Linked DNA regions of Homo sapiens. The protein of the gene in region 1 interacts with the protein of each later gene in a biochemical or structural test. Each region holds a gene or a part of one and is shown on either strand. Other genes may lie near its edges. The genes, in order: GIPC1, RGS19, LRP2 and SLC2A1.

The links.
Region 2: the proteins of GIPC1 (region 1) and RGS19 form a complex in vitro, tested with the Homo sapiens proteins (2 studies listed by BioGRID).
Region 3: the proteins of GIPC1 (region 1) and LRP2 form a complex in vitro, tested with the Homo sapiens proteins (2 studies listed by BioGRID).
Region 4: the proteins of GIPC1 (region 1) and SLC2A1 form a complex in vitro, tested with the Homo sapiens proteins (one study listed by BioGRID).

What each region holds. Positions count from the first base shown.
Region 1 is NC_000019.10:14,493,120-14,500,961, forward strand, and holds the start of GIPC1 (PDZ domain-containing protein GIPC1), read right to left. Parts: upstream 3,009-7,842; 5' UTR 2,918-3,008; intron 1-2,917. UniProt on the Homo sapiens protein: May be involved in G protein-linked signaling.
Region 2 is NC_000020.11:64,076,519-64,083,350, forward strand, and holds the start of RGS19 (regulator of G-protein signaling 19), read right to left. Parts: upstream 3,001-6,832; 5' UTR 2,776-3,000; exon of another isoform or gene 2,633-2,775; intron 743-2,632; exon of another isoform or gene 709-742; coding exon of another isoform or gene 592-708; intron 493-591; exon of another isoform or gene 437-492; 5' UTR 369-436; coding exon 339-368; intron 129-338; coding exon 7-128; intron 1-6. UniProt on the Homo sapiens protein: Inhibits signal transduction by increasing the GTPase activity of G protein alpha subunits thereby driving them into their inactive GDP-bound form. Binds to G-alpha subfamily 1 members, with the order G(i)a3 > G(i)a1 > G(o)a >> G(z)a/G(i)a2.
Region 3 is NC_000002.12:169,352,531-169,359,550, forward strand, and holds part of LRP2 (low-density lipoprotein receptor-related protein 2 precursor), read right to left. Parts: intron 1-7,020. UniProt on the Homo sapiens protein: Multiligand endocytic receptor. Acts together with CUBN to mediate endocytosis of high-density lipoproteins. Mediates receptor-mediated uptake of polybasic drugs such as aprotinin, aminoglycosides and polymyxin B.
Region 4 is NC_000001.11:42,955,866-42,963,430, reverse strand, and holds the start of SLC2A1 (solute carrier family 2, facilitated glucose transporter member 1), read left to right. Parts: upstream 1-4,562; 5' UTR 4,563-4,779; coding exon 4,780-4,797; intron 4,798-7,565. UniProt on the Homo sapiens protein: Facilitative glucose transporter, which is responsible for constitutive or basal glucose uptake. Has a very broad substrate specificity; can transport a wide range of aldoses including both pentoses and hexoses.

The DNA.
Region 1 (7,842 bases):
TGAAGCCTCCCAGGCTTGCCCCAGCATGCTGGAACTGCCCCTGTGGTACAGATGGCTCAGGCCCATGAACTTAATTGCATGCTGCCCTGGCAGAACTCTTGTCTTCCAGCTTCAGGCTGTCATTTAACTTCATGTCTCTATTTTAAAACGTAAACCAGATGGCATCACTGCCCTGCCTGAAACTTTACAACAGTTTCCCACCTTCTGGAAGAAAAACTGCAATCTCCTTACTGTGACCCACAAACCCCTGCAGAATCGCTGCTCTGGGTTCATCTTCTGCTCCAACCATGTGATTCCAAACTTGGTCCAGCCTAAAGACCTTGGCCTTGCCCATCTCTCTCTCTTTTTTTTTTTTCGAGATGGAGTCTTGCTCTGTCACCCAGGTTGGAGTGCAGTGGCGCCATCTCAGCTCACTGCAACCTCCACCTCCTGGGTTCAAACGATTCTTCTGCCCTAGCCTCCTGAGTAGCTGGGATTACAGGCACGCACCACCACATCCGGCTAATTTTTGTATTTTTATTTTGTATTTGTTTATTTTTATTTATTTATTTATTTTTGAGACGGAGTTTCATTCTTGTTGCCCAGGTTGGAGTGCAATGGCGCGATCTTGGCTCACCGCAACCTCTGCCTACCGGGTTCAAGCGATTCTCTCCTGCCTCAGCCTCCCATGTAGCTGTGATTACAGGCATGTGCCACCACGCCCAGCTTATTTTATATTTTTAGTAGAGACAGGGTTTCTCCATGTTGGTCAGGCTGGTCTTGAACTCCTGACCTCAGGTGATCTGCCTGCCTCGGCCTCCCAAAGTGCTGGGATTACAGGCATAAGCCACCACGCCTGGCCTATTTTTATTTTTTTTTGAGATGGAGTCTCGCTCTGTAGCCCAGGCTGGAGTGCAGTGGCACGATCTCAGCTCACTGCAACCTCCGCCTCCCGGGTTCAAGCGATTCTCCTGCCTCAGCCTCCTGAGTAGCTGGGCTTACAGGCGTGCGCCACCACACCCAGCTAATTTTCATATTTTTAGGAGAGAGGGGGTTTCACCATGTTGATCAGGCTGGTCTCAAACTCCTGACCTCTTGACCCACCTGTCTCAGCCTCCCAAAGTGCTGGGATTACAGGGGTGAGCCATGCCCCTAGCCAATTTTTGTATTTTTAGTAGAGACAGGGTTTCCCCATGTTGGCCAGGCTGGTCTCAAACTCCTGACCTCAAGCAACCCACCCGCCTCGGCCTCCCAAAGTGCTGGGATTACAGGCGTGAGCCACCGCGCCCGGGCCCCCTTGCCTGATCTTTGCTGGGCTGGCACCCCTTGCCCACAACTACTCTCTACAGTACCACCCGCTCATATTTTATTCATAGCAGTTAGTGCCATCTGAAATTATCTTCTTTATTTACTTGCTAACTTGTTTGTTGGCTGCTTCCTTCCTTTCAGAGTGCCAACTCCTCAAAAGTAGGGATTTTGTTTTGTTCACTGTTGCATTTTCTGTGCCAAGAACAGTGCCTAGCACATGCACGTAGCAGGTGCTCACTAAATATTTGTAGACTGAGTGAATGAATGTGTCTCAGGTCCTCGTTCTGATTGCTCTCTGTGCTCCCCATCCTTGAAACAGCCCCCTAAACATGCCTGCTGTGCGGTTGCCAACTGTCCTAGGCTCCCCACTTTCCCTGGCTCCCCTCACACCTGAACACAGAGATGAAGAGCCACTTCAGCCCGGATATTGAGTGTTTGGGCTGGAATTTCAGCATCCTCACCCCCTCATCCTGGGAAGGGCCTGAAACTTAGCAACCCCACGGCCACACAGAAGCAGTGTGGCCAGCAGGAGGAGGGGAAGGGGGTTCCTGGGAGCACACAGAAGCTAGGGGAAGGGGGAAACCACGCCCAGGCTCCCCGTTCCAGCACAGTGTTGCTTTGGAGAGAAGGAGGGAAAGAGGCCTCTGATTCACTCTTGAAAAACCGGCTCCTGGGTGTTTCCGGGGAGAACGCCTACTTCCCAGCCTCGGCCCAGGTTGCCAGGGGGGAACCCAGTGGGCCCAGACCCCAGCATCCTGGCCCCCTGCAGACGCCACTCTCTTCTCTGGACCCAGGTAGTTAGACCTGCCCTCTCCAGCTCTGGGGAGAAGGGAAAGGAGGGCAGCTTCCTGTTTGAGTGGCTGGTAAAGCAAAAGACCAGCAGGTGTGGCCCTGATGATGAGTACGGGGTAGGGGGTGGGAGGGGTAGGGGGCCGGAGCTACTCAGCAACAACTGAGCCGTGGAGTTATTGGTATCCAGTCTAGTGGGTGTGACTCCAGTTCTGGACCCTGGGGCATGAGTTCCAGTCCCAGATGTGCCAGTTACTAGCTGTGTGACCTTGGGCAAGTCACTCCACCTCTCTGGGTAGGCTGCCTCACCTTTTTTACAAGAAGGCACAGCACCTCCCATGAGGTGTTTAGAGTCAATTATCCTCATGGTAAATGCCTGACACGGAAGCTCTCCAATAAATGCTAGCTGAGGTGGAGTTTTTCATGACGATTATTATTCAGACCGTGGTCCTCACTGCGTCCCCCCCAAGGCCCTGGAGGGTTCAGACGCGGTTAGCTCAGGGGAAGTGCCCAGGAAAGGGTCAGAAACACTGACCCCGCGCCTGTCCACGCTGGGATGGGGACAGTCCAGCCGGGGGACGGGGGGAGGGGCAAGCCCAGAAACCCCAGCCCAGCGTTGGGAGGCGTTTGTCCCCTGCCCGCCAGCAGGAAGGGAGCTGCCCCCACCACCCCCCACCCCCGCTTCCCCTGGGAAGGGGCCTCCGGCATCCCCGCGCGCAGCCTAGACCTCCAGTCGCGTCCACGGCGCCGGCCCCACCCTGCAGGATCGGCCGGATCCTCGCAGGCCCGCGACCCCCGAGGCCCCCGGAGCAGACACATCCTTCTCGCAGAGGCCACTCACCTGCTCCGCCGCCGCCGCCGCCGCCGCCGCCGCCGCCGCTGCCTCCGCCTCCCCGTGCGCACCCGGCTCGGCCCTCCGCAAACTCCAGACCGGGCCTCTCCCGCAGCGGCGCCTGGGGGGCGGGGCCGACGCCCGCGGCCGGCCAATCAGCGGCTGCCTCTCGGTGCTCGCAGCCAATCCGCGTCTTCCGCTTCGGGTGGACCCGACGGAAACATTCCAGAGGGATCCCTCCGCCTCGCCCGGCTCTTCCCGACTCCTCCCCTCGCCGCGAAGCAGTGGACCGTTCCGCCCCGCCTAAGCCGCGGCTGGCTGTACCACCGGAGGGCTGAGGAGGGGGGGGAGCTGCAGCTGGGCCCCGGCCAATCGCGAGGGAGGAAGGAGACAAGCGGCCAATGGGAAGGAAGCTGGGGCCCCTGAACCACGTGCTGTCGGCTGAGTGTCAGTCTCGGGTGCCCTGGGTGGTGAGGGGCGGGGGAGTCAGGTGACCTAGGCCAGGTTTCGGGGAAAGGATTCGAACTTCCGACGTCCAGGAAAGCGGACAGTTTAGGAGACCTGGGTGGGGGTCAATGGCAGTCCCCAACCCAGTTCCCTGCCCGGCCTCCTCTGCCCCAGCCTGGCCATCCTCGGAGCGGATAAAAAGATGCATTCAATCTCTGGGGGCGGGCGGGGGATCGAGATGAATAGGGAGGGTCCCGAGTTTCCCTGCTTCCTGGGCTGTACAATGGACAAAGGCATTCATTCATTCATTCGTTCACTCACTCATCAAATATTTAATGTGCCAGACTGCTCCGTGCCAGACTCTGTCCTACCTCTGAAGACGCGTCAGTGAATAAGCTGAATGTGCTCCTGGTAGAGGTAACAGAGCGTGCAAAAGCCGGACAGAGAGATACAGCACGCTTTAGGATACTGCAATATCGTGGGAGCTAGTAAATCAGTGTGGAAAGGCAAGATGCAATGAAAGACAAGGGTGAGATAGTTTATCTGCTTGTTGGTTTGTTTATGTGCTAGGTCACAGAAGGTACCCAGCCAGCCTTTCATAGATCTGTCTCCTCCATCTGACTGTGAGGGTGGAGGCTGAGTCTCTCTTGTCAACCCCTCACTCCCACCTCAGGCTGCCACACGGCAGGTTCTCAGCAAACCTGTGTGGACAAATAGACCATGTAGTTTATAAGGAAGGGGGATTTATCAGGTGGACACAGATCCAAGAAACAAGAGTCACAAATGCACCTGGACCAGGCCAGGACGCTCAGTTCCCGGGACAAGTGAGATTTCCTTGTTCTAGTTCAAACCCAGCCACTTGGACAGCAACTGGGGCTGAATGCTGTGTGTTCTGGGAACTGTAGTTCCTGGAAGCCTCTAAGTGCTGAGACCCTGCTCAAGCTCCATAGAAAGACTGGTTCTTTGCAGTTCCCAGGGTGAGATGTTGTGCATATCAGTCCCACCAGGACCTGCAGAGGGGCAAACTAAAATGGGAGATGGAACCTTGAGCTTTGCTGCTGAGGATTGCCTAGCCAGCCCCACCCAGCTGGCAAACACCGAGATTGCTGTGGCAGGCCAGGCAACAGGCACAGCTATTGTCCGTCCCTTCCTGTTCTGCTGACCTCTGCCATCCCACTGAGCAATCAGTTGCCTGGGCTGGCCAGTACCCTCTGTGGGACTGTGCTGCCTGCCCTGCTTGAGCCTGGCATCTAAGCTGCCCCCTGCACACTTGGAGAGGACGGGATGCTGAGCCCAGGGGACAGCATGACTGAGGCTGCAGAGTCCTGAGCCAGACTCCAACTGGCTCCTGTTTCCTGATGAGGAAGTGCCCGGAGAAGGGGTGATGGGATTGTGGGATTGCTCAAGACACAGAGCAGCACTGGGCACCTCCTTTCTGAATTTTTTTTTTTTTTTTTTTGAGACAGTGTCTAGCTCCGTTGGCCAGGCTGGAATGCAGTGGCAGGATCTCAGCTCACTGCAACCTCCACCTCCTAGGCTCAAGTAATCCTCCCATCTTAGCCTACCGAGTAGCTGGGACCACAGGCATGTACCACCACACCTGGCTAATTTTTGTTGTTGTTGTTGTTTGTTTGTTTGTTTTTTTGAGACGGAGCCTCACTCTGTCACCCAGGCTGCAGTGCAGTGGTGCAATCTCAGCTTACTGCAACCTCCGCTTCTCAGGTTCGAGCAATTCTCACGCCTCAGTCTCCTGAGTAGCTGGGATTACAGCGTGCGCCATCATGCTCGGCTAAATTTTTTGTATTTTTAAAAGAGACGGGGTTTCGCCATGTTGGCCAGGCTGGTCTCGAACTCCTGGCCTCAAGTGATCCACCTGCCTCGTCCTCCTGAAATGCTGGGATTACAGGCATGAGCCACTGCACGCAGTCTATTCCTTTGTTTGTCTGTTTGTTTGTTTTGAGACAGAGTTCCACTCTTGTTGCCCAGGCTGGAGTGCAATGGCGCAATCTCGGCTCACTGCAACCTCCACCTCCCAGGTTCAAGCGATTCTCCTGCCTCAACCTCCTGATTAGCTGGGATTACAGGCACCCGCCACCACATCTGGCTAGTTTTGTATTTTTAGTAGAGACAGGGTTTCATCCTGTTGGCCAGGCCGGTCTCGAACTCCTGGCCTCAAGTGATCCAACTGCCTCATCCTCTCAAAATGCTGGGATTACAGGCATGAGTCACTGTGCCAGGCCCATTTGTTTGTTTTTTGATAGAGACAGGGTCTCACCATGTTGCACAGAGCTGGTCTTGAACTCCTGGGCTCAAGCCATCCTCCCTCTTTGGCCTCCCAAAAGTGCTGGGATTACAGGTGTGAGCCACCATGCCCAGCCCTCCTTCCCGATTTTATAGCTCAAGAGGAATGCCTAAAAGCTGAGGCTGGGAAGTCCAATGGTGAGCAGCTTAGATGTGAGCGCTACCTCTGTTCCTTTAAAAGAAAAAAGAGGCCGGGTGCAATGGCTCACGCCTGTAATCCCAACACATTGGGAGGGTGAGGCGGGCGGATCACAAGGTCAGGAGTTCGAGACCAGCCTGGCCAACATGGTGAAACCTCGTCTCTACTAAAAATACAAAAATTAGCTGGGTGTGATGGTGGGCGCCTGTAGTCCCAGCTACTCAGGAGGCTGAGGCAGGAGAATGGTGTGAACCCGGGAGGCGGAGCTGGCAGTGAGCCGAGATTGCGCCACTGCCCTCCAGCCTGGGCAACAGAACGAGACTCCGTCTCAAAAAAAAAAAAAAAAAAAGAAAAAGAAAAAACAGAAAAAAGAAAAAAATTCCATCCTTGAATGCCAGCTAACACATGCAGAAGGGAAGGTTGTGTGCGTTAGAACATCATTGTTTTGCTGAGTGCAGTGGCTGCAGCCTCTAATCCCAGTGACTTGGAGGCTGAGGCTGAAAGGATCCCTTGAGGGCAGGAGTTCGAGACTAGCCGAGGCAACATAGCAAGACCTCCATCTCTACAAAAATGGGTGTGGTGCTGTGTGCCTGTAGTCCCAGCTACTCGGGAGGCTGAGGCAGGAGGATCACTTGAGCCCAGGAGTCGAGGCTACAGTGAGCTATGAGCTACAGCTTCCTATGTGCCAGGCATCATTCCAAGAACTTCCTATTTATTAAACCATGTAACTCTCCTGATGACCTAGGTGCAGTTTTACACATTGTATATTTGTCCTCCCACTCTGTCAGGGGAAAATTTGCTTCACCCATGATATCCTTCATTGGAGGGAAATTCTTAATTTTGATATAATAGAACTCACTGTGAAGTTATATTAAGAATGCTTGGCTGGGCACACTAGCTCATGCCTGTAATCCCAGCACTTTGGGAGGCTGAGGCAGGTGGATTGCTTGACACCAGGAGTTCAAGACCAGCCTGGGTAACATAATGAGACCCTGTCTCTACAAAAAATAATAAAAATTAGCCAGAAAAGGAGGCACTGGACTATAGTCCCAGCTACTCAGGAGGCTGAGGTGGGAGGATCACTTGAGCCCAGGAGTTCAAGCCTACAGTAAGCTATGATCACACCACTGCATTCTAGCCTGGGTGACTGAGCAAGACCCTATCTCCCAAAACAAAACAAAAGAAGGCCTTTTCATCCCTATATGGCAAACTTATACTTCCACATTTTCTTTATTTTTTTTTTGAAACAGAGTCTCACTCTGTCACCCATGCTGGAGTGCAGTGATGTGATCTCAACTCACTGCAACCTCCACCTCGCAGGCTCAAGCGATTCTCACGCCTCAGCCTCCCGAGTAGCTGGGATTAGAGGCATGTGTCACCATGCCTAGCTAATTTTTTGTATTTTTTAGTGAAGACCGGGTTTCACCATGTTGTCCAGACTGGTTTTGAACTCCTGGCCTCAAGTAATCCGCACGCTTTGGCCTCCCAGAGTGCTGGGATTGCAGGCATGAGTGAGCCACCGCACCTGACTCTTCCACAGTTTCCTTTTTTTTTTTTTTTTTTGAGACGGAGTCTCGCTCTGTCTCCCAGGCTGGAGTGCAGTGGCACGATCTTGGCTCACTGCAAGCTCTGCCTCCCAGGTTCATGCCATTCTCCTGCCTCAGCCTCCCGAGTAGCTGGGACTAGAGGCGCCCGCCACCATGTATGGCTAATTTTTTGTATTTTTAGTAGAGACGGGGCTTCACCGTGTTAGCCAGGATGGTCTTGATCTCCTGACCTCGTGATCTGCCCACTTTGGCCTCCCAAAGTGCTGGGATTACAGGCGTGAGTCACTGCGCCTGGCCCCATTTTCATTTCTTCATTCTACGTTTTTTGGTTTTGTTATTTTATTTATTTATTTATTTATTTATTTTGAGACAGAATCTTGCTCTGTCGCCCAGGCTGGAGTGCAGTGGCGTGATCACGGCTCACGGCAACCTCTGCCTCCTGAGCTCAAGCAATTCTCCTGCCCCAGCCTCCCGAGTAGCTGGGATTACAGGCTATGCCA
Region 2 (6,832 bases), on another chromosome or scaffold:
ACTCACCAGGAGCAGCTACAGCAGCAGCACCAGCACAGGCAGCAGGGGTTGCGGCTGGGGGCCGCTGGAGAGGCTGTATCATGACTGGACATTGAAGGGGGCCGGTCCGCCTCCTCTGGCCCTGTGATCTGGGGAAAAGTGGGGCTACCTCAGCTTTCAGGTCAGAACCCACCAGACTCTCCACCTCTCCCCCACCTTCCCATGGGTAGCCCTGTTCCCAGGCACATGACCCTTCTGGCCTCCCGGGTGTTCAGGGATCTCCCAGCTCCTTGTGGCCCCTCAGCTTGCCCCACCCCATCTCCCCCAGGGGAGCAGAGGCAGAGGGGGAGGTGGCATACCTGCTTCTCAGCCTCATGCGGGGTGGGCATGGGTGGGCGGAGGAGGTTGCCCAGGCTCCGTGGTACCAGCTCTCAGACCCTCACCACAGCCTGGGGGTCTGGGGAGAGGGGCCAAGGTTCTGACTGAGAACCTGAAACCCCAGCCCCTGCCTACCCCTTAGGAGGGGTCCTGAGAGGGTGTCTCCCTAGCGGGGCCTGCTCCTGCCTCTGGACCCAGCTCTGCCTAGGGCTTCTACCCCGACCCCAAGCTTACAGCAGGGCTGGGAGGGGGTCCAGGATCATTGAGGAGGGAGCTGCAGCAGCTTCTGGCCCCTCCTCCCAGGCTGGGCCCCAGATGAGGCCCCCACTGGAGGTTCCGAGACACCCCCATCCGCTCACTCCCTGGGAAGCCGGAAGCCTGGGTTCCTCTTTCTTGGTTTCCGGCTCCCAGCCCCTCCCAAAGGGGCCCCGAGAGTCTGGGGCTACCAACTGGTGCGTGCGGGTGGTGGCCAGACTGGCTTCTAGGGTGTCTGGGGTGGGGAGTGGGCAGAGTGGCTTCCCACCAAGAGTCCAGGTCTGTCTGTGGGTCCCAGAGGTCTCAGCCAGGGGCAGCAGGCTAGACCTGCAGCAGTGAGGATTTAAGTGGGACTCAGGCTGGACTTGCTGAGGGTGTGGGAAGGGGGGCAGGGCCCCGGTGAGGAGGGACATGCCCCCCAAACATGGTTCTTTGGTCCTGCTACCTCCCACCCAAGACTTCCCTCCCTCCTTGCCCACTGCCTCTAGGCTGTGAAACTGCTGTGGAACCAAGGCCCTACCACAGGGTGCGCCAGCCAGGGAAGTGGGGGTGGCAGGGGTGGGGGGCACCCTGCTCCCCAGTCGAAGCCTCGGAGTCCCTGAGGGGGGTGTGGTGTGGTGCATGTCCCTCCCAGCATTTGGTTGCACCGTCTGCAGGGGAGGTGCACCAGGAGCGCCAAAGCTGTGAGTGGCCCTCATGCCACCTAAGATGCCACTTCGAATCCCAAGTCTCCTTGGGCGATGGTACAGGGGGGCCAATCAGTGCCCCGGAGGCAGTTGTGAACACCTGCGCCCACTTCTGCCCAGGGCAGGGAGGGGCCTCCGTGCACATCCGCCACCCTCCTCATGTGCCGCCACCCTCCCTGGCCAGGAAGCTCACAACTTGATTCTACTTTATTTTCTCAATCTTCATCCCCCCGCCACGCCTCCCCTAGCTCGTGGCCTTTGAATGCTTGTTTCTGGCTGGTTGGCTTCTCTTGGCCTCCTGGGACGGTGTGTGAATGGCCCTCAGAAGAGACAGTGCTGGAGTTCTGCACTCTTAGGGCCCCCAATACCCCCGAGGCCTGGGCATGCAGAGGCCACTGCCCTGGCCCAAGTCTGGGGCAGGTGCAGCATCCCCTGGGACCTTGGCCCCTCACCACCGGCCCAGTTTCCTCTGAGACTGGGGGTCCCACGGGCTCCTAGCAAGTAGATGAGGAGACCGAAAGTAGCCCTGCAGCTGGGCTTTCTTTCAGGGGTCAAGTTTCTAGGGAAAGGAAGGGGCGTGGCAACCTGAGGTTTGGTAGCTGTACCCAGACGGGGCTGTCTGTGGCTTCCCCAGGCAGCAGTTCTTCCTCCTCTCTGTCCCCACCCAGGGTCCTCCCCCACACTCTAGCACCCCTGAGACTGTCCCCCTGGGCTACCATCTCCACCCCAGCTCTGAACTGGAGGAGGGGACGTGTTTAGGGGTGCAGGGCCGGGGTGCTAGGGGCTGCATTTGCTGCAGAGCAGGGAGCCAGCCCCTTCTTTCCCAGTTGCAGGCCCTGGACCTGGTCACCTGTCCCTGGACCTGGCTTCCTGTACCCTTCTCAGGTCAACTGGGGCAACCCATGTCCCCAGGCTACCCTCCCCCCGTCTCTCCTGGGGGATACAGAGTCTCAACTAGGGTCCTCCTGCTTGTCAACCTGGCATTGGGGACCCCCTTCCCCAGCCTCCCAGGCTTTGGCCCCCAAGTCTGGGATGGGATAGGCTGGATAGGCGGCACGTCTGCTCTCTGGGGATAGAGGATCCCTTGGGAGTGGCTGCCGCTTTGCTCCACAGAAGGAAAAAGAACGTCCCAGAGCCTGCCCAGTCCAAAAAAAGAATAAGAAAATGTGACAATCCCAGAAAAAAATGTCATAACCTTTGGGAGGGGGGTTGAAGAGGGGCTCCATTCTCAGTCCTTAGCTCCTACCCAGGGCCTTTCCCATCTGCCACCCTCCACATCTGGCTGGTGGGCGAGCCCTGGCCTGGCCCCTCCAGGGAAGGCCAGCTCTCCCCACCTCTGAAATGGTGGTGGTGGCCCACCCACCACGCTCCTCTCTCTGCTGTTAGGGTCCAGTCTGGAGAAGCCTGTGTTCTCCTCCAGGTGCCTCTTTCTTCAGCCTCTGACGCCCCCACCCCTACCTCAAAGCTCCCTACTCACCAGCGACCCAAAGGCGGGGTGGGGGCAGGAGGGGCCAGGTTGGGTCTGGGCCCCACCCTGGCTGCCGAAGGGGCGTGCACTGCAGCAGCAGGGACTCAAGTCAGACGGCAGGAGGGACTCCTGCGGCGCTCTGGAGGGAGGCTAGCGCCAGGAGCCCCCGATCGGCTGGGGCCGGGGGCGCAGCGCCTCCCCTACAGCTCGAAGGGCTGAGTGGCTGCCAGATCCAGCGGGGTGGGGGCGGGGGCGGACAGGGTGTCCCGCCCCGGCCCCTCCTCACCGGGCTGAGAGGGGGAGGGAGACGCGGAAACCTGGGTTCTTCCGGCCCCCACCTTTGAGCAATCACTTCCCCAGGCTTTGAGCTCCAGAAAAAGGGGAACCCGGCTGCGGCGCCCCCTCCCCCACGCGCGGGGGGCGGGCTCCACTTCCACTGCGGCCCAGGGTCCACGTGGACCTGGCGGCGGGAGCCCTTGGGGTTCGAGTCCCGTGCGCCGGCTCCCGAAGCTCCCGCCCAGCACGGTCCCCGGGCCCGGGCCGGGAGGGGCAGGGCCGCTGTCCCCGGCGCTGCGCGCGCGCACTCACCAGCCGCGCTCCCGAGCCACTCGCGCCGCCGCCGGCCCGCGCGCTCCAAGGTCCGGCCCGACAGTCGGGGAGGGGGCGCGGGGGCGCAGTGCGCAGGCGCCTCGGCGGCACTTCCCCAAAGCCAGGGGCCGGGACTTCCTCGCGCCGGCGGTCGCCGGGCCCGCCCCGCCCGCCGCGCCCCGCCCCGCGCTCGGCCGGCTCCGCACCCCACCCGCCCCGCCCGCGCGTCGGCCCCCACAGTCGCCTGGGGGTGGCCCGGAGAGTCGAGGTGCTCATAGTGGAGCCCTGGCTCCCGGGCGGACGGAGCCGCACGGTAGTAGATGGGGGTGTGGCCGTGGCCCCCGACTCTGCTCGGCGGGGCCGTTCCTGCTTTGCCATCCGTGTGGGACTTCCACGACAGTGGAGGCACGAGAGCTGGGCCCCATATGCTGCTTGCCCAGCTTGGGAAAGAGGAGGCTGCTGCAAAGGACCGATCGGCGGGTACGCCAGCCCGGCCCACCCCTCGCCTCCGTGAGCCGCGTCTGTAAAACTGGGTTAAGAGCCGCCTGTCTGTGCTGTGGGGGGTTCCCAAGGAAGGGGGAGATTCCTGTGCTGCGGGGCTGGGGAGAACTGGGGGTGCGGGTTCTTGCATCCGGAGTCATGCCGAATGTCTCCTGTGGGGCCTGGCAGAGTCCCTGCTGACCCGTGTGTCCCAAGATGTCCTAAAGCTTAAGGCCACACTGTCCCCTTTGCCACGAACGCCCTGTCCCTTTGGCCGACTCTTCTCATCCTTTATGACTCGGTACAGACGTGGGTTAGGCTTCTCATCGCAGCATGCTTTGGCCCTGTGTCAGGGTGGCCCTGACCCTGCTCTGGAAGTGTCTGCAGAGCATCTGTGCCCCCCGCCCCTCCCCTGGCCCGGCTGTGTGCAGCTCCTGTCCTCCCCAGCACAAGCACTCCACCCGGATAGTTCCCAGTGTCGGGATCTGTTCATAAAATGCCTTCCAGTTGCACAGGTCAGGTGCACACCTTACACCTTCACAGAACTCTGAGGGGTGCAAAGGCAGCTGGAGATTCTACTTGTATTCCTCATTCAACGGACAAGTATCAGTATCTGGGTGCCCCTGTGGGCCAGGCAGTAGGACCAGAAGCCAGCAACATAGATCAGCCTGGATCTTATGCTGGGGGGCGCAGAGTGAGTTGTGGGGAGCAGGCAGGGAAGGCCTGGGTGAGAGGGGGGAGGGCTGAGGAGGGGAGGGTATTGCGCTGCTGAGCGGGGGCGGGGGCCCGAAGGGGGAGGTCAGAGGTCAGAGGGCCCTGGAGGACAGACAGGCTGCCTCTCGAAGCTGTACCCAGAACCCTGTGACTGCCATGTTGTCAGGCCAGGCAAGGAAAGGCAGGGGCCAGGAAGCCCACAGGGACAAGAGGCAGGCTGCTACTTATTCAGCCCACATAACACTCCTGAGCGGTGGGCACAGGTGAGGTCAGGGAAGCTCAACGAAGATGGGCCAGCACCTGGCCCAGGCCACACACAACCAGGCTGACCCCGCTGAGCCGGCCTGTTGTCTCTGCTGTGGGAAAATGCAGCTGTGGGCAGCTGGCAGGGGGTGAAGGTCAGTGCCCTCCCTGCCCCCTCGGGTCACTCTACAACCCCCCAGTCATTCCCCCGTCTCCTCTGGCCCCTTGGGCCTGCTCTCCACCGCCCTGGCTTCTGCCTCTCGGCACACAGCATCCTGAAGTCCATGGGTGGGGCCAGGTGAGCTGGGCAGTTGATGGCGGAGCTGGGATTTGAACCCAGGACCCTCTGCGCCCTGACAGCCCTCAATATATTGGGCTTTGGACCACATGCCTTCCTTCCCATAGAGCTTTCTACAGGCAGGCGTCCCTCCAGGCCCCATTCCCCAGCCTCCTTTGCACATCCAGCACCCCCTGCGCCTTTTCATGGGGATCAAAGGGCCCGAGTGCCGGCCTGACCCTGGTGCAGTCACTGAGGTCACTGTCTTGCTGGCCTTCTCTGGGTGCTGGGTCTGCTGTGCCTGTCTCTGCCCCTCTTCCCTCTTGCCTGTCTGATGCAGAGTGACCCATCCCCTTTGGAGCACTTGCTGCTGTGGGGTACTGCACCAAGACCCTTATTTTAAAGATAAAGAAATGGAGTCTCAGAGAAATGGTGAAATAATATGTGATTCTCCCAGTAGATGAACTCATTCTAGGCACTCAGTCAATCCCCAAGACACAGAATCCTGGGGTCCAGGCTGCAGGGAGTTTGGCCAGACGACACCAGGGCTGGCTGTCATCACATGTCACAAGCACATCAGGGTGTGAGTGGCTGCCACTCCTGGACAGACTGCCTCCCTTCCCTGTCTGTCTGCCCCTGCTCAAGCCCCTTCTCCCTGGCCTCCTTCCTCTCTACCCTTCCCTTCCTGAAACCCCTCCTGCCATCTCTCTGTCCCCTCCTTGTCAGCTGACTTCTGAGCTCTGTATACAGTCTGGGCTTGGGTCAAGGCCAAGGGCAGCAACAGCCCAGAAAGAGTAAAGTGCTCGGTGCACGGGGAGAAGGGCTGGCTGAGGGGCGAGTGCGCAGGGCTCCACCCCCTGGCCGGGGCTGGGGAGAAACACTGGCTGCCATGGAGCAGGATCCCTTCTGGACCCCAGTTCTGACCTCTGCCCCTCCTTCCAGTCAGCTGGAGCCCCCTAGCAGGAGGAGCGGTTTGTCTGAGTTCCTGCGGTCCCGCTTCTGTGCAGCCTGCTGGGCAGGGGGCTGGGAGGGAGGAAAAGGAAGCGGGGGCCTAGGGAAGCCCCAGCGTCTGCAAAGAGCTCACGTCGGGGAGAAAAGTAAGGTCTGCCCAGAAACCTCGGGGCTTTTCAGAGTCCAGGGATTTTGTAGGTCGTGGGCCTGTTTGTCAGAATGGGACAGGGGTGGCTTCCTTTTGTACTGCATGCGTGAGTGTGTGTGGGGTGTGTGTGTGTGGGGGGGTGGGTGTGGGGGTGTGGCATGGGGCATTAAAGGGGTCACAGGAGGCTATTCAGGATGGAAAGGAAGGCCAGAGGGTGGGATTTTTGTCTGGGGGCCGCAGGGGTTCCCCTTGCCCAGTCTCTTGGTCCTCTTGGGCACAGCTGCTGCTTCTTCAAAGGCCAGCTTAGGTCACTTCCGCTGCCCACAGCACTGCCCTCTCCCTGGCCCCCTGGTGGGATGACTCGCACTCGAGACCACTGCAGCCTGAGGCTACCCTTACATCTGGGGGTGACTTCTGCTGAAACAGGCTCTTTCTCCGTCCTCCCCAAGACTGGGGGCCTCCCATAGACCCACAGAACGCCAGGTTGCCAGTGGGGGGCAGATCGGGATTAGGGGTAGGCGTGTCCCTGACCTGTTACTTTCACACCCACCCACTTGCGTCTCCCCACTTTTTTGGGAGAGGCCCCACTCTCTGTACCCTGATGTCTGTGAGGTGCATGGGAGAGGCAGCGTCCATACTCCCCGCTTCCCTCGGGGTCCTGGGGA
Region 3 (7,020 bases), on another chromosome or scaffold:
TCCCAAAAATTGGTCCAGCCCTCAGAATCACCTTGAAACTTTTAAAAATACAGATTTTCCACATTTTCTTTATCTAGTCTATCACTGATGGGCATTTGGGTTGGTTGTGGCACATATGCACCATGGAATAATATGCAGCCATAAAAAGGAATGAGTTCATGTCATTTGCAGGGACATGAATGACGCTGGAAGCCATCATTCTCAGCAAACTAACATAGGAACAGAAAACCAAACACCGCATGTTCTCACTCATAAGTGGGAGATGAACAATGAGAACACATGGTCACAGGGGGGGGAACATCACACACAGAGAGGGGAACATCACACACCGGGGCCTGTCAGGGGGTGGGGGCCAAGGGAAGGGAGAGCATTAGGACAAATACCTAATGCATGTGAGCCTTAAAACCTAGATGAAAGGTTGATAGGTACAGCAAACCACCATGGCACATGTATACCTATGTAACAAACCTGCACATTCTGCATATGTATCCCAGAACTGAAAGTAAAATAAAATAAAATTTTTAAAAAACACAGATTTTCATACCCCTGCTTTAGTAAGGGTGAGTTTTGATTTAAGAATCTCTATACTTTTTTAAGTTCCTCAGGTGATTTTGATGATATGTCAAGTTTGGGGAGCTAGCTGACTTTGTCTAGGGTCCTTAGAAATTCTAACAATCTGTAAGTTATTGTGATGAAATAATACTTTTGAGAACATAACTAAAACCTTCTCAAAGTTGGATTCCCCCTGGATAGGATCAAGGAAACACGTAGCCCCATTTGCCCTGGCAGCCATATCAGAATCATATGGGAAGCCAGACCGCACACAAAGGTGAAACTTAGGGGGGAGTAGGGTCAAGGAAAACACAAAGAAAGAGAACTGGAGCCCTGACTGCACCTCGCCTGAACCCCACTCTGCCTCAGTATTTTTTACTCACATAAGCCAAGAAATACCCTTTATTGTGTAGGCCATTTTGAGTTGGGTTTTCTGTTTCTTGCAACAAAAAGTATTCTCCACACCCTTCCCCACATCAAAATTAAACCAGTGTGGAAGTACATGCTAGCATGTATCACCCCCCTTCTAGTGAGATTAAAATGTGGGTAGGATTGCCATATTTCTGATAAAATACTTTCATTCTTAAATTCAACTTTAAGAATTTCCTGACAAAATAAATGATTTCAGCCGGGCATGGTGGCTAGCGCCTATAATCCCAGCACTTTGGGAAGCTGAGGCGGGAGGATCACTTGAGCTCAGGGGTTTGAGGCCAGCCTGAACAACATGGAGAAACCTCATCTCTACAAAAAATATAAAAATTAACTGTGAGTGCTGGTATGTGTCTGTAGTCCCAGCTTCTTGTGGGGTTAAGCGGAGAGGATCTCTTCAGCCTGGGAAGTTGAGGCTGCAGGGAGCCATGCACTCCAGCCTGAGTGATAAAGTGAGACCCTCTCTGGCCTGGGTGATAAAGTAAGACCTTGTCTCAAAAAATAAAAATAAACGATTTTGATTTTTTCAACCTTTACTCAGGAAATTTTCTCCTTGTTAATGACATAAAAACCAAAGAACTGGGCCCAAAGTGACAAGCAAATCACTGACAGTATAAGACAGAATATTTTTATAGAGGAATCCAAGAATGTCCAGCATAACAGAAGTGTAGCTACTTTCCTTTTCGTCTTTTTCAGGTTTCCTCAACACCTTCAAAAGTACACATGCTCTTACTTAATGTGAATCAGTAGATCAGTGAGGAAAGACTTATTTTCAAAGTTACCAGGAATCTTCATGTGTTATTCGCTGATAGTACATAAATTTAAAGGAGACCTTGGATATTGCTTACAAACTTGGATCTCAAGATCTGGACAATAAATGCGCCATTGTATCCATGGTAACAGTGGCTCAACTATTCAATGCACAGAATGGTAATTACATTTCCTCCTTTCATTCATTTCTCACTGTTTCCAGTAACCTTGAGGTCAGGCATGACCTGAGGGCTAATGACCAAAAGTGAAACTTCAAATTGTCTAATCTGTCATTATCTAGGAAAGACTTACATTTCTTTGCACTGAATTTCAGTGCTATCCTAAATCAGAAGTGTCCTAATATAAAAGTTAACCATCTTATTTTTAGAATGATAATGTCTCCATTTTCTCAGCTAATGTGATTAGAGATAAGACTTAAATTAGAGACCAACAAAGTAACCATCAGCAAAGAGTACATATATCTGGCATTTCTGAATTAATCCAATAAGGTGTGATGGATACGTGTTCTACCATTTATGAAAGAAGTCCATAGATGAAGTGCTAAGGACACTCAGATGTGCACCAAGATGTGTTCTGTCTCCACAGAAGCATCTTAACCTGTCTGCAAACTCTTTAAGCTTCTTTCTCTCTACCCCATCCTTATAGCAAAGGACTAGTGCTTGGAAAACAGACAAACTCTTAGGAACATAAACATTGGAGTGAAGTAAATTGGAAAAGGAGTAGGAGCCTAAGATTCACAGAAAAATGAAATACTGCACCAGACTTAAGGGATCCTGTAGTCTGATCGCTCAGCTCATTTTCCAGAACTTTCCTGTCTATCACAAAGCTCTGCTCCAAATAAGAAAACTTTAGGATCCAAATAAACCTTCTAAAAGTCCTTCTTTCTCCTGTTCTCCTTCTAAACTTAAAGTTGCAACATGGTCACATGGGCACAGATCACCATGTCTTTTTTCTTAATGTTTCCAATACTTTATTCCTTTCAATTCTGTAAGTTACCCCAGGGCTGCCAGCTCTTGAGAAATTTCTGTAGCTTTTTCAAGTGTGTCTTCACATACAAAATGAAAATAACATCGTCAGTCAATTTTATCTGATAAGGTATACTGAACACCTGTTATTTTTGCATCCCAGCCTCTGTTCACCATTCTCCCAATAATTACCCCCATTTCTCTCTGGACTCCACCCCTTCATACATGATCTCAAAGACTGAGTATACAGCCCAAGCCTAAGCCATGGGAACACATCATGACCCGGGATTCAGTGGTTGGTTCTCCAATGAGTTTATGACCTAAGTAGAGACCCTGAGATGCAACTGAAACTTTTGCTGGGAATAGCTAAGATAAAAACTCTTTTTCTTTCCCAGTGGATGTGATCTGATAGGAGGTGGCTCCAGAGCCACTGACAGCCGCTTTACATCAAAGGAGAACATGTTTAAGAATGGAGTCATCTCAGAGCCAGGAGACGGAAAAAAGACAAGATTGGCCTGACATAGTTTGAGCCTCCATTTTATATTAGGTTGAACCAAATGAAATTGCCAATATTTGACTATTTCTGCATAGGAAAAAAAATCAATCTCAAATGGATCAACCTAATTATCTGTATCTTTTCAACTATGTATTTATTTTCTTTGAGACAGGGTCTCACTCTGTCGCTGAGGCTGGAGTGCAGTGGCATGATCACAGCTCACTGTAGCCTCGACCTCCTGGGCTCAAGCGATCATCTCACCTCAGCCTCCCAAGTAGCTGGGACCACAAGGGCACACCACCATTCCTGGCTAATTTTTTGTATTTTTTGTAGAGATGGAGTCTCACTATGTTGCCCAGGCTGGTCTCAAACTCCTAGGCTCAAGCAATCCGCTCACCTCAGACTCCCAAAGTGCTGAGATTTATAGGCATGAGCCACCACACCCAGCCTCAACTATGTATTTCAATAACCTTCCTTTTTTGCCTCAGACAGTTTAACTTAGTTTTGTGACATTCACCAACATAACAGTACTGAATAACATGTGAAGTTGTGGTAGCCACTGTAAGGATGTAACAACATGCACAGGTGCATCATTCTCAGACCCACGGTAAAGAAGATACCAAAATACTGCAACATCTTCCTCCTCTCAAGTTTGGAAAAAGTAAAATTCTCGTATTGGGTAATAATGATGAATGGAAATCTATATGAGACTTCACAGTTTATTAAACATTTCACATTCATTGCCTTTGCATAACCACCCCGTGAGGTAGATATATGTCCATTTTACAGATAAGAAAACTGCCCCAGAGCACCCAGCATGTGTGGTACTGGATTTCCCAGATAATAAATGGCAGAGGTAGGAATCAAACCAAGATCCTCCAACTTCAAAATCACAAGCCCTTCCCACTTCATCTCAAAACACTGTAACTGTCAAGAAATTACTTCGGAAACATTTGCATTAGGAACATGTGAAGAACCACAGAAATGCTCTTGACATTTCAAAACAACTACTAGCTGATCATTATCAAGAAGCATCCCAGAACTCGGATGCTGAAACATCTCCAATCTTTCTAATGCTGGTGAGATCCTGGGCAGGGTTATTAGGAATGAGTCAATGACTATTTCAGAATCTTAAATGCAAAACTGCAGTCCATTTTAATTGCGAGATATGTAGACACCTCTTTTCAGTTCTCATCTTCCTTAATGTTTCTGTAGTATTGATACTATTGACTCATCAGCACACTGTTGATATTTAATAAATATTCATGGAAAAAATAAAATAAACATTCACAGAATACACAATAGTGGTAAAAATTTTTAATTACTCAAGACTATAAAGTTAATAGGATACGATAGAACCATTTGATTTATACCAAAGGTTCCATCAAGCTTATTTTTTCCATGCTAGAATAGGGCTTCACAATTAGTATTTTTTTAGTTGCTCTAGATTCGTGCAGTCAACCTTGAGAACCCCTTTCCTATCCATTCAACACTCTTTCATAAGCACCTTCTACTTTCTTTTCTTTTTTTTTTCTTTTTTATTTATTTTTATTTTATTTTATTTTATTTTATTTTATTTTATTTTATTTTATTTTATTTTATTTTTGAGACAGATTCTTGCTCTGTCACCCAGGCTGGAGTGCAGTGGCACAATCTCAGCTCACTGCAATCCCTGCCTCCTGTGTTCAAGCAGTTCTCCTGCCTCAGCCTCCCGAGTAGCTGGGATTACAGGTGTGCGTCACCACGCCCAGCTAATTTTTGTGTTTTAAATAGAAACAGGGTTTCACCATGTTGGCCAGGCAGGTCTCGATCTCCTGACCTCATGATCCTCCCGCCTCAGCATCCCAAAGTGCTGGGATTACAGGCATGAGCCCCCACGCCCAGCTCAGCACCTTCTACTTTCTACTTACCTTGTTCTAGCTACTAGGACTTAACAGAAACTCCAAAGCCAATATGACAATGCACTTGCTTCTGATTACACAGGAAATACATCTAGGTTCCTGGTATCATTATTTTTAAATGATAATTTAAAATTTTAATTTAAATATTTTAAAAACCTTTCAGTGTTCTTACAGTGCCTGACTAGAGAACATGAACAATGATTATGACCTAATAATTACCTTTAGTAAGACTGAAAACCTAGTCTTACAGCAGCCTGCACTACAAAACCCAAAGATCTTCAGGAATGCGCTTTGATGGCTCAAGAATTTGAAAAATGGATCTGGAGGTATGGTCTTTGGGAGTAGGGGCACTGACATGGCATCAGTTCTGGACCAAGCTGAAAGCGCATGGTACATGGTTGTAATAACCTATCACAGGATTCCTCTTTGGCCAGGGACAGGTAACCCATCCAATTGTTTTTAAGATTCATCTGCTTATCAGACTGTGCCTTATCTGGCAAGTCAGGATTCCAAAAGGAATCTAGAAATCTCAACCAACCAAACAGGCTGGGGACATTCAGAAGGCATGAATCTAAAAAATGGTCCACTGCAAATTTATATCTTAGCTCTGTCACAGGCTAGATGTCCTTAGGCAAGAAACCTATTAACCGCCTTCCCTTTCATCCTCTCAGCCCCTTTCTTCTCCCTCCTGGGCTAATTGCTTATCTGTAAGAAAAAAAAAATGCAAGCAGACCAGTTGATATCTAAGGTTCCCTCTAGCTGTAAAAAGTCTGAGTTTCTATTAAAATGAGACAGGTGCATGACTGAAGGGAGTTCAGGCAGAAGTCTTATGAAGACTGGTAAAGAGAAACTTTTTCAAGTAGAGAAAGAGAAGCCAACAACTGTGAAATTAAAGCAGCAGTGAGGTTCCAGAGTTGTGATGGAATAAAAACGATACAAGTTTGCTATTGCCCCCACAATCCTTTTAAACATATAAACTTCATGTGAAGATGTAATTGTCATAAAAGCTGATACTAACTCTTAAAAACATTACCACATTTTTATTGGATTAAAGAATATAATGTTGGACCAGGTAAGGTGGCTCCTGCCTATAATGTCAGCACTTTGGGAAGCAGAGGTAGGAGGATCATTTGAGGCCAAGAGTTCAAGACCAGCCTGGGCAACACAGTGAGACCCCATTTCTATTTTTGAAAAATAAGTTTTTTTAATTAGTAAACAGAATACAACTTTGTTTAAGGCCAATACGATTTTCTCAAAAAAAAAAAAAAAAAAGAAAAAATCTTCCAATCACATGCTAGGGTCTGAGAAGTCTTCAGAGAACTGTTAGTGAAAAATGCTTAAAGAAGACTTTCCTTTGTATATTTGAAAATTGGAAATGGAAATAGGAATAGGAAGCAAAACAATATGTTACTTTAAGGGTTGATAAATATAATAAAAATATTGTATTTTTAGATTATTTTCTAGTTTATTTTCACTGTCTATATGCTTTACACCATGCTAAGCACTTGGCATATTTTATCTCTTTATGCTTACAAGATGTCATTGGGTAAATTCTCTTATTATCTTGTCAATTTTGCAGATAAGCCATCTGAGCTATGCAAAGTTGGTTGACTTTCCCAAGGTCACACAGCTAGAAAGTGGTAAAGCCAATGTTGGAACCCAACAGCTTGACTCGAGTTCAGACTCTGCAAAATGTTTTTTCTTGAAAAGCATTACACAAAAGATAAGGAAAATGCAAATAATTTTTAACAACAGATGTGGTATAATTTTTTTCAAAGACTAAACATAGAATACTCAGAGCTCTTTTTTTTCCCCTCCAATTTTTAGTGATGCGAAGTTTGCAATGGTAGCCTACCTAAAAGGTAGTGCTTAAATAAAGGCTGTTACAATCTCATTGGATTTTACT
Region 4 (7,565 bases), on another chromosome or scaffold:
TGGGGACAGGAAGGGATGGGCAAAGATAATGAGTTCAGGTTTGAGCATGGTGAGTGTGAGGGACCTGTGGGACATCCAGAGGGACATCCTGGAGGCAGCTGGACAGAAAAGCCTGGTAGTCAGGAGAGAAGGGAGGGGAGTATGTGCCTTCAATTCCCCCAGCATCAGCGAGCAGGTGGTAGCCCTGATAAGTGCATTTGCAGAGGGTCGGAGGGCATACAGAAGATAAAGAAGGGATGCCGAAAAGCTTTCTGAAAGCAGGTGGTTCAAGCAGATGTGCAAATCAGAATGAAAACATTAAACACACAAAACTGTCCTGCCTGGCCCATCAGACCTTCCTGGAATCCATCACTGTGTTTACCTGCAATCCAGGAGGATTTGAATTGCAAAACACCCTTTGGATTAGGGGGGCTTCCGTCCCAGCCCCTGCTATCCCCTCTTGTACCAATTGTAGCTGACTCAGCAAAACCTTTCCTCCTGGCTGCCAGGGACGCTTGCCTTTAAAGGCAACAGAGTCTTTTCCCAGCCCGCCTTACTCACTCCTAACTCTGGAGCTGCTAGGACCCGCCCTGCACGGCCCTGCCACCACCACCATCACCACCACCACCCCTCCCCCACCCACTTGCGTGCTCTGAGGCACACACTAGGCTCCAGCATCCGCCTGGCACCTGACACCTCCCTGCTAGCCAGTCCCAGAGAGCTCTTTTCCTCCAGACTAGCTGGGGCTGGAACTGCTTAGAATCGGACCCAGAAGAGGCCGAGTTCCGTCCAGGACTAAAGGCAGCCTCCAGGGAATAAAGCTGTCAGTGTGGGCGCAGACTAGGGAAGGGGCACTAGGTCGTTCAAGCTGAATGCTGGGGTTCCACAGCCTCCTCACACCCCCTTTAGTGCCTCAGGTAGAGTAGGCTTGTGGGGACACTGAGGTTTCCTCAGGTCCTTTCCCTGCTCAATAACTCTCCATGGCTCGCCACTACCCACTGCATAAAGCCCTAACTCCTATACCTGGCATTTGGGAGCCTCTGTGATTCCACTTCTTCAGTCTCTTCTCCTCCCTAAGCCCCCATGCCCCAGCCACAGGGGCTACTTAGGTGCCCCTCCTGCTCCCCTTTCCCCTTGCACCCAAACCTTCTCTGCTCATGTGCTATTTCCTGGGGCCTTCTCTAGGGCTCATTCCCTAGTTGGAGTTAAATTCTGCTTCCAAGGAATCAGCCACCCAAATAACAAACCAGTCCACCTGAGAATCTAGTCTGTGATGCAGCGTCAATAGCTTCTGATGAATTTGCTTCTGACCAGTAGCCTCCAGGGGTCATAAAACATTCACAGAGAGGAACACAGAGAAGGTAATGGGGGTCTGTGTGTGGGCAGGTGGGGTGGGGTGGGTGAAGGAAAAGCTTTTTTTTGGCCACTGTGCTTTTTCCTCAAGCACCGCCCTACCATGGGATGGGGATTTGACTGAACTTCTCACGTCAAGAATGAGTACAGTTTACATAGCTAAGCCTTTATAAACATCCACTTTCCCTCAGGCCTACCCAGGAAGGGTTTGTTATATCTATTTTACAGATGTGGGTCTTCAGGCTCAGAGAAGAGAAGGCATTGTTTGCCCATGAATGTTTGCAAGTAAATAGCAGAGCTGGGACTCAAAGAGTCCGGATCTGGGGCTCCATCATGAATCTCTAAGAGTGGCCCAGAGATTCTCACGTTCCCTAGGTAATCATTCTGGCAGTCTGCTGCCTTTGCACATGCTCTTCTCTCTGCTGAGAATGGCCTTCCCTCAATCCATCTGGTGAACTCCTATTCAGTCTTCCAAACCCTGCTTAGCATGACCTCCCCCTTCCCAGATGCTCTCTCTACTCACTCTCCTTCCCCTGTGGTACAAGTTCTGCACCTGTACAGATTCTTAACCCTCTACGCTTGACTTGGTATTGTTGCTGCTCATTTCCCCTCTTGCTCCTCCTCCAGCTTGGGGCCTCCATGAGGCTAACAATGGGGTCACATGTCTCTGTCCCTGGGAAAGTGGCCAGCATGGGGCTGGCCCAGAGAAGGACAAGGTGGCTGTTTGGTGAGTGTGACCCATGGGCTGAGTAAGGCAGACCCGCAACTGGGAAAAGGCATAGACTGGATGTGCTAAGAAACAAGGAGCTGTGGAGAGACTTTGAGGAGGGAAGTAGCAAAACCCAAAAGGTACTTAAGGAAAGACTGGAAGTATCAGCAGGACGGACTGGAGGGGAAGGAACATTCAACACAGGTAGATTAGCTGCTCACTCATTCGTGCATTCCTTCCCTCCTTCAGTCATTCACCCACGTGCCTCAGCTGCAGAACCTGTCCTCAAGGTGCTCACAGGCTGAGGGAAGGCAGACAGAGGACAAGTGGCAACCTACAAAACACCAAATGGTAAAGGAGAGAAAGATTTCCACTTGGGAGAACCAGGGACACTTCCCGGAGGAGGAAGGACCCATGGTGCTTTTTGGCATGGTGAGGTCGGGGAGGGCTTCCCAGGCAGAGGAGACAAGCTGAGCAAATGTGTGGATGTGAGTTGCTGGTGTGAGGGGCGAGGCTGAGCGTGTAAACTGGTGCCATGAAGAAGGACCGTGATGGCCAGGCTTGGCCCTTACTCCCTCCATGACAATTTCAGACAGATGAGCAGGAGAGTGGCAGGGTGCAGGACTGGAGGACAAAAGACCAGAGGAGATGGAGGCCCTGCAGACAGCAGGGGAGGGAAGGAGGATGAGGTGGTGTAGACAGCGGAGTCAGCAGGACTTGGTCTGTCCAGGGGTGAGGAGAGAGGTGGCCCAAGCTTTCCAGGCTGAGCATAGAGAGACCACAGGAATTGAAGCCTTGGGCAGGGGGGTGCCCAGAATGCACCTGCCTTCTGTTTCAGGGCTCCATACTCAACCAAGGTGCCCCTCAGCCAGAACTGGACACATTGCCAGAGAACTCCAGGGGTCATCTGGTCGGCTCAGCCTCCCGGTTTCCGACAGACAGTAAGCCCACCATGACTCCCTCCATCGGGAAAGGGACCCTCAAGACTTTGATCAGACCTTTGGACTGGGGGTCCTTCCCTTCACTGTGTCTCAAGTAAGGCACTGGTCTAGAGGAAATAAGGTGAAGTCAGATGATAGCAATACCACTACCAGTGCAGTGGCACATGCCTGCACTCCCAGCTACTACGGAGGCTAAGGTGGGAGGATCACTTGAGCCCAGGAGTTTGAGACCAGCATTTATTTATTTACTAACAGACTAAATAAATAAACCAACAATACCACCAACCAGTAAATGAGAACTTCCATGCTAAACACTTCATGAGCTTATCTGGAAATTGCACCTCTCCTGATAGCAATGAGATTGGTGTGGGAATTCCATTTACTCATAAGAAGACAGCCTCGGCCGGGCTCAGTGGCTCACGCCTGTAATCCCAGTACTTTGGGAGGCGAGGTGGGTGGATCACGAGGTCAAGAGTTCAAGACCAGCCTGGCCAAAATGGTGAAACCCCGTCTCTACTAAAAATAAAAATAATTAGCCAGGGGTGATAGCGGGCGCCTGTAATCCCAGCTACTCGGGAGGCTGAGGCAGAGAACTGCTTGAATCCGGGAGGCGGAGGTTACAGTGAGCCGAGATCGTGCCGCTGCACTCCAGCCTGGGCGACAGAGCGAGACTCTGTCTGAGAAAAAAAAAAATTAAAGAAAAAAACGAAAACAGCCTCACTGGCCAGGAACTCGCCCAGGATCGCGGCCGGGCCAGTATACAGTTGAGCTGGTTCAAACCCGAGGTCTATCATGTCCTTAATGTCCTATCATGTCAGTCAGTTAGCCTGCCTTTCATATTTTCCACACTTACAGGTCACCATAGACTCACCTGAACTGTGAGAAGTAGAGGAAGGCGTCCCAGAGGAGGTGATTTTAAAGCCCAGGTTTGAGATGGGTATGCATTTCCAGGCAAGAGAGCCCGGCCGGTGCAAAAGCAAGGCTTGGCTCACAAACGGGAATGTGGGGGGTGGAGACAGGGAAGGGAGAAGTCAATCCCTGGGCAAGACCTCCTGGAGTCTCTCTAACAAATAAATACTACTTTCCATGCAGTAGACGCTGTTCTAAACACTTTACAAATATTAACTCACTTGGTCTTTCTACAACCCTACGAGGTGGTACTGTTACTATCCCTAGTGCACCGAAGTCACCCAGCGGCCGAGTGAGAACTCCAGTCCAGCTTTCCACCCGCTACTCCGCGCATCCCAGCTTGCCTTACAGCCGGGTACCGGCTCCACCATTTTGCTAGAGAAGGCCGCGGAGGCTCAGAGAGGTGCGCACACTTGCCCTGAGTCACACAGCGAATGCCCTCCGCGGTCCCAACGCAGAGAGAACGAGCCGATCGGCAGCCTGAGCGAGGCAGTGGTTAGGGGGGGCCCCGGCCCCGGCCACTCCCCTCACCCCCTCCCCGCAGAGCGCCGCCCAGGACAGGCTGGGCCCCAGGCCCCGCCCCGAGGTCCTGCCCACACACCCCTGACACACCGGCGTCGCCAGCCAATGGCCGGGGTCCTATAAACGCTACGGTCCGCGCGCTCTCTGGCAAGAGGCAAGAGGTAGCAACAGCGAGCGTGCCGGTCGCTAGTCGCGGGTCCCCGAGTGAGCACGCCAGGGAGCAGGAGACCAAACGACGGGGGTCGGAGTCAGAGTCGCAGTGGGAGTCCCCGGACCGGAGCACGAGCCTGAGCGGGAGAGCGCCGCTCGCACGCCCGTCGCCACCCGCGTACCCGGCGCAGCCAGAGCCACCAGCGCAGCGCTGCCATGGAGCCCAGCAGCAAGGTGAGTCGCGCGCCCGCGGGCCCTCCCGCCAGGAACAAAGGCGCAGACTCCTGCCCGCCTTACGCCGGCCAGGGCCTCCCCCGCCGCCCCGCTGCGCTGTGCGCCCGGGGCGGGCCGCGCGCCTCTCCGAGCCTGGCTCGGTGCGGGTCCCGAGCGCAGCGCCCCGCCGGGCCGCTGGCCGCAGTGGGGATGGGCTTCGGATCTAGCGGGCCGGAGGGCGCCGCGTGCGTAGTTGGCGCCGGCACTGAGCACATGGCCTCCTTCCGGGGGCGCCGCGCCGTCCACGCGGCCCTGCTGGGGCTGGGGACACAGGGCCCGGGAGCGGCACGTCGCACACGACCTCGGCAGCAGCAGCCCAGCCTCGGCCCCTCCCGGTGCGGGGGAGGGGGCCCGAGCGCGGCGCCCATTGGCTGAGCGGGCCGAGCCCCCGGCCCGGCCCCGGCCCCGGCGCGCGGAGGAGTCAGGAGCCGCCCCCGCTCTCCGTCTGCTCCCCTAGCCCGGACGCCCCTGTAGGTGGGCGGCCTGGTGCGAGGTGTCCCACCGGCCTCCCCTACTCCTCCCGCCAGTCCCCCGCGGTGACGAGGCCGAGGCCGAGGGGAGGGCACTTTTCTCCAGGCCCGGGCTCGAACGCGGGGGTTGAGATGAACCTCCGGTCTCGGAGGCTCTCCTTTGCGAGGAGTGCAGGCCCCAAAGCTTTGGCCCAGTCTCGCGGAGATGTGTTCCGCGGAGGCAGGTTTACCCTCGGGGCCAGGCGGGGAGCGCAACCGGAGGGGCGGGGGATCTGGGGGCCAGGAAAGAGCCCCAGGCTGAAGTCTAGCGGGAAGCGCGCACGCCACGGGGTTGGGGAATGAGGGATGGGGACTCTGGGGACCAACAACTCCCTAGATAGGATTTCTTTTTTTCTGTGTAAGTGGGCTTGTCCTGCAGGGCATCTTTGTAGCGTCCGCAGAGCGATTTCTTTTCAACAAATTGTTTGTGGAGCCCCTCCTGTGTGTAGGGCATTGTTTCTTTCCACCTCCTTTCCTCCCCCTAGTCTACAATATTTTCAAGTCCCCTTTTTCTTTTGAAACGGTCCCTCTTTATCTATTATACTTTGATTTTTCCATCTCGTCAGCTGGGAGGGCACCTGGATGGCCCTTGTTTTCTTAGCTGGGACGCGGGGGTAGCACTGAATTTTGAACTGCCCTTCCTACTGGCTGTGGAGGTGTCCCGCTGAGACTGAGCGGGGTGGCGCTGGGCCGCACCCTCGGCAGGAAAAGGCCTTCCGCCCCACACCTGTTGAATCCATAAATCCAGACGACTTGGTTCACCCTTCCTGGGCCCTCGCTTGAGGTGAGACCCCGGGGAAGTTCCCGGGGAAGGCTCCCAGGATCTTAGGTGAGCCGTAAGGGTGGGATATAACTAAACAAAAGTTCAGTGAGAAGCTCTTCTAGCTAGTGGCAAGGAAGTCCAAATATCTCAGGGCTCTTGCAGGCCACTTAACTTCTGGGCCTCAGTTTTTCCATCTGAAAGAGATCACTTTTGTCACTTCCTCTAGGGAAGGAACTATCTATTCAGCATACTATGCCAGACATGGGTATTTATTTGTTGAGTGGATAAGGGAATACTACGTGGAGACAGAAAAGTGGAGGAGAAAATCAGCAGGTTCTTAGCCAAACTACTTTAAGCGTCACGGACCTTATAGCCCTGCTGGTTACTCACTAGCCTGGAGCTCAGAGAAGGGAAATAAGTTTGCCAAAGTCACACAGCTAGTAAGTGGTTGAACTGGATTTGAACCCAGGCCCATCAGATTTAATTTCATTTCTGTCTCCACTGTCTCTCTTCACCACAACATTTCTTGAATTTTGGGCAGAAGGGAGAGAGTTTGCCTATCTTCAAAGGTGGCCCCTTGTGCCAGCTGGTTCTAAATAGTGTAGCAGGTGGGTGCTCTTCATGGAGTGTTCTCCAAGTTTTCCACTGTCTACCTCGTCAGTAATTAATGTTGGAACACCTCTTTCACAGTGGTGTATCTGTATTTTTATTTTTTTATTTTTATTTATTTATTTTTTGAGACGGAGTTTCGCTTTTGTTGCCCAGGCTGGAGTGCAATGGCGCGATCTCAACTCCCTGCAACCTCTGCCTCCCGGGTTCAAGCGTTTCTTCTGCCTCAGCCTCCCGAGTAGCTGGAATTACAGGCATGTGCCACCACACCCAGCTAATGTTTTTTTTTTTTTTTTTTTTTTTTTTGTAGTTTTAGTAGAGACGGGGTTTCTCCATGTTGGTCAGGCTGGTCTCGAACTCCCGACCTCAGATGATCTGCCCGCCTCGGCCTCCCAAAGTGCTGGGATTACAGGCCTGGGATTACAGGCGTGAGCCACCACGCCCGGCTGTATTTTTAAATTCATGCACATGCAGTTTGATACTAACAGATGATATGCCTTCATAAAATAGAAATTTCAAAAGACAGATAGATACAAGACAGCAGTTATAGTCATTTTCCCCTCCAAATCTTGTGTAGATCATTCCATATACATTCTGGAATAAAGCCCTTCCCTTTGGAGACTGCTGATTTGACCTGCAAGCACAGCCTTTTTGTGCATGATGTTAGAGGCCTGGGGAGGTCATATCGCTTGCCTTTCACACAAGATCTGAAAACCAGGTGTGTCTGGCTCCAAAGCCTTGGTTCTGCTATGTTCCTCTTTGTCTCCTAGGAAATGGGAACTGACTTAACTAACTTCCCCGTGTTCCATTGTGCTCCTCTGTAACTCACAGTAATGAGCTTAGCTGAA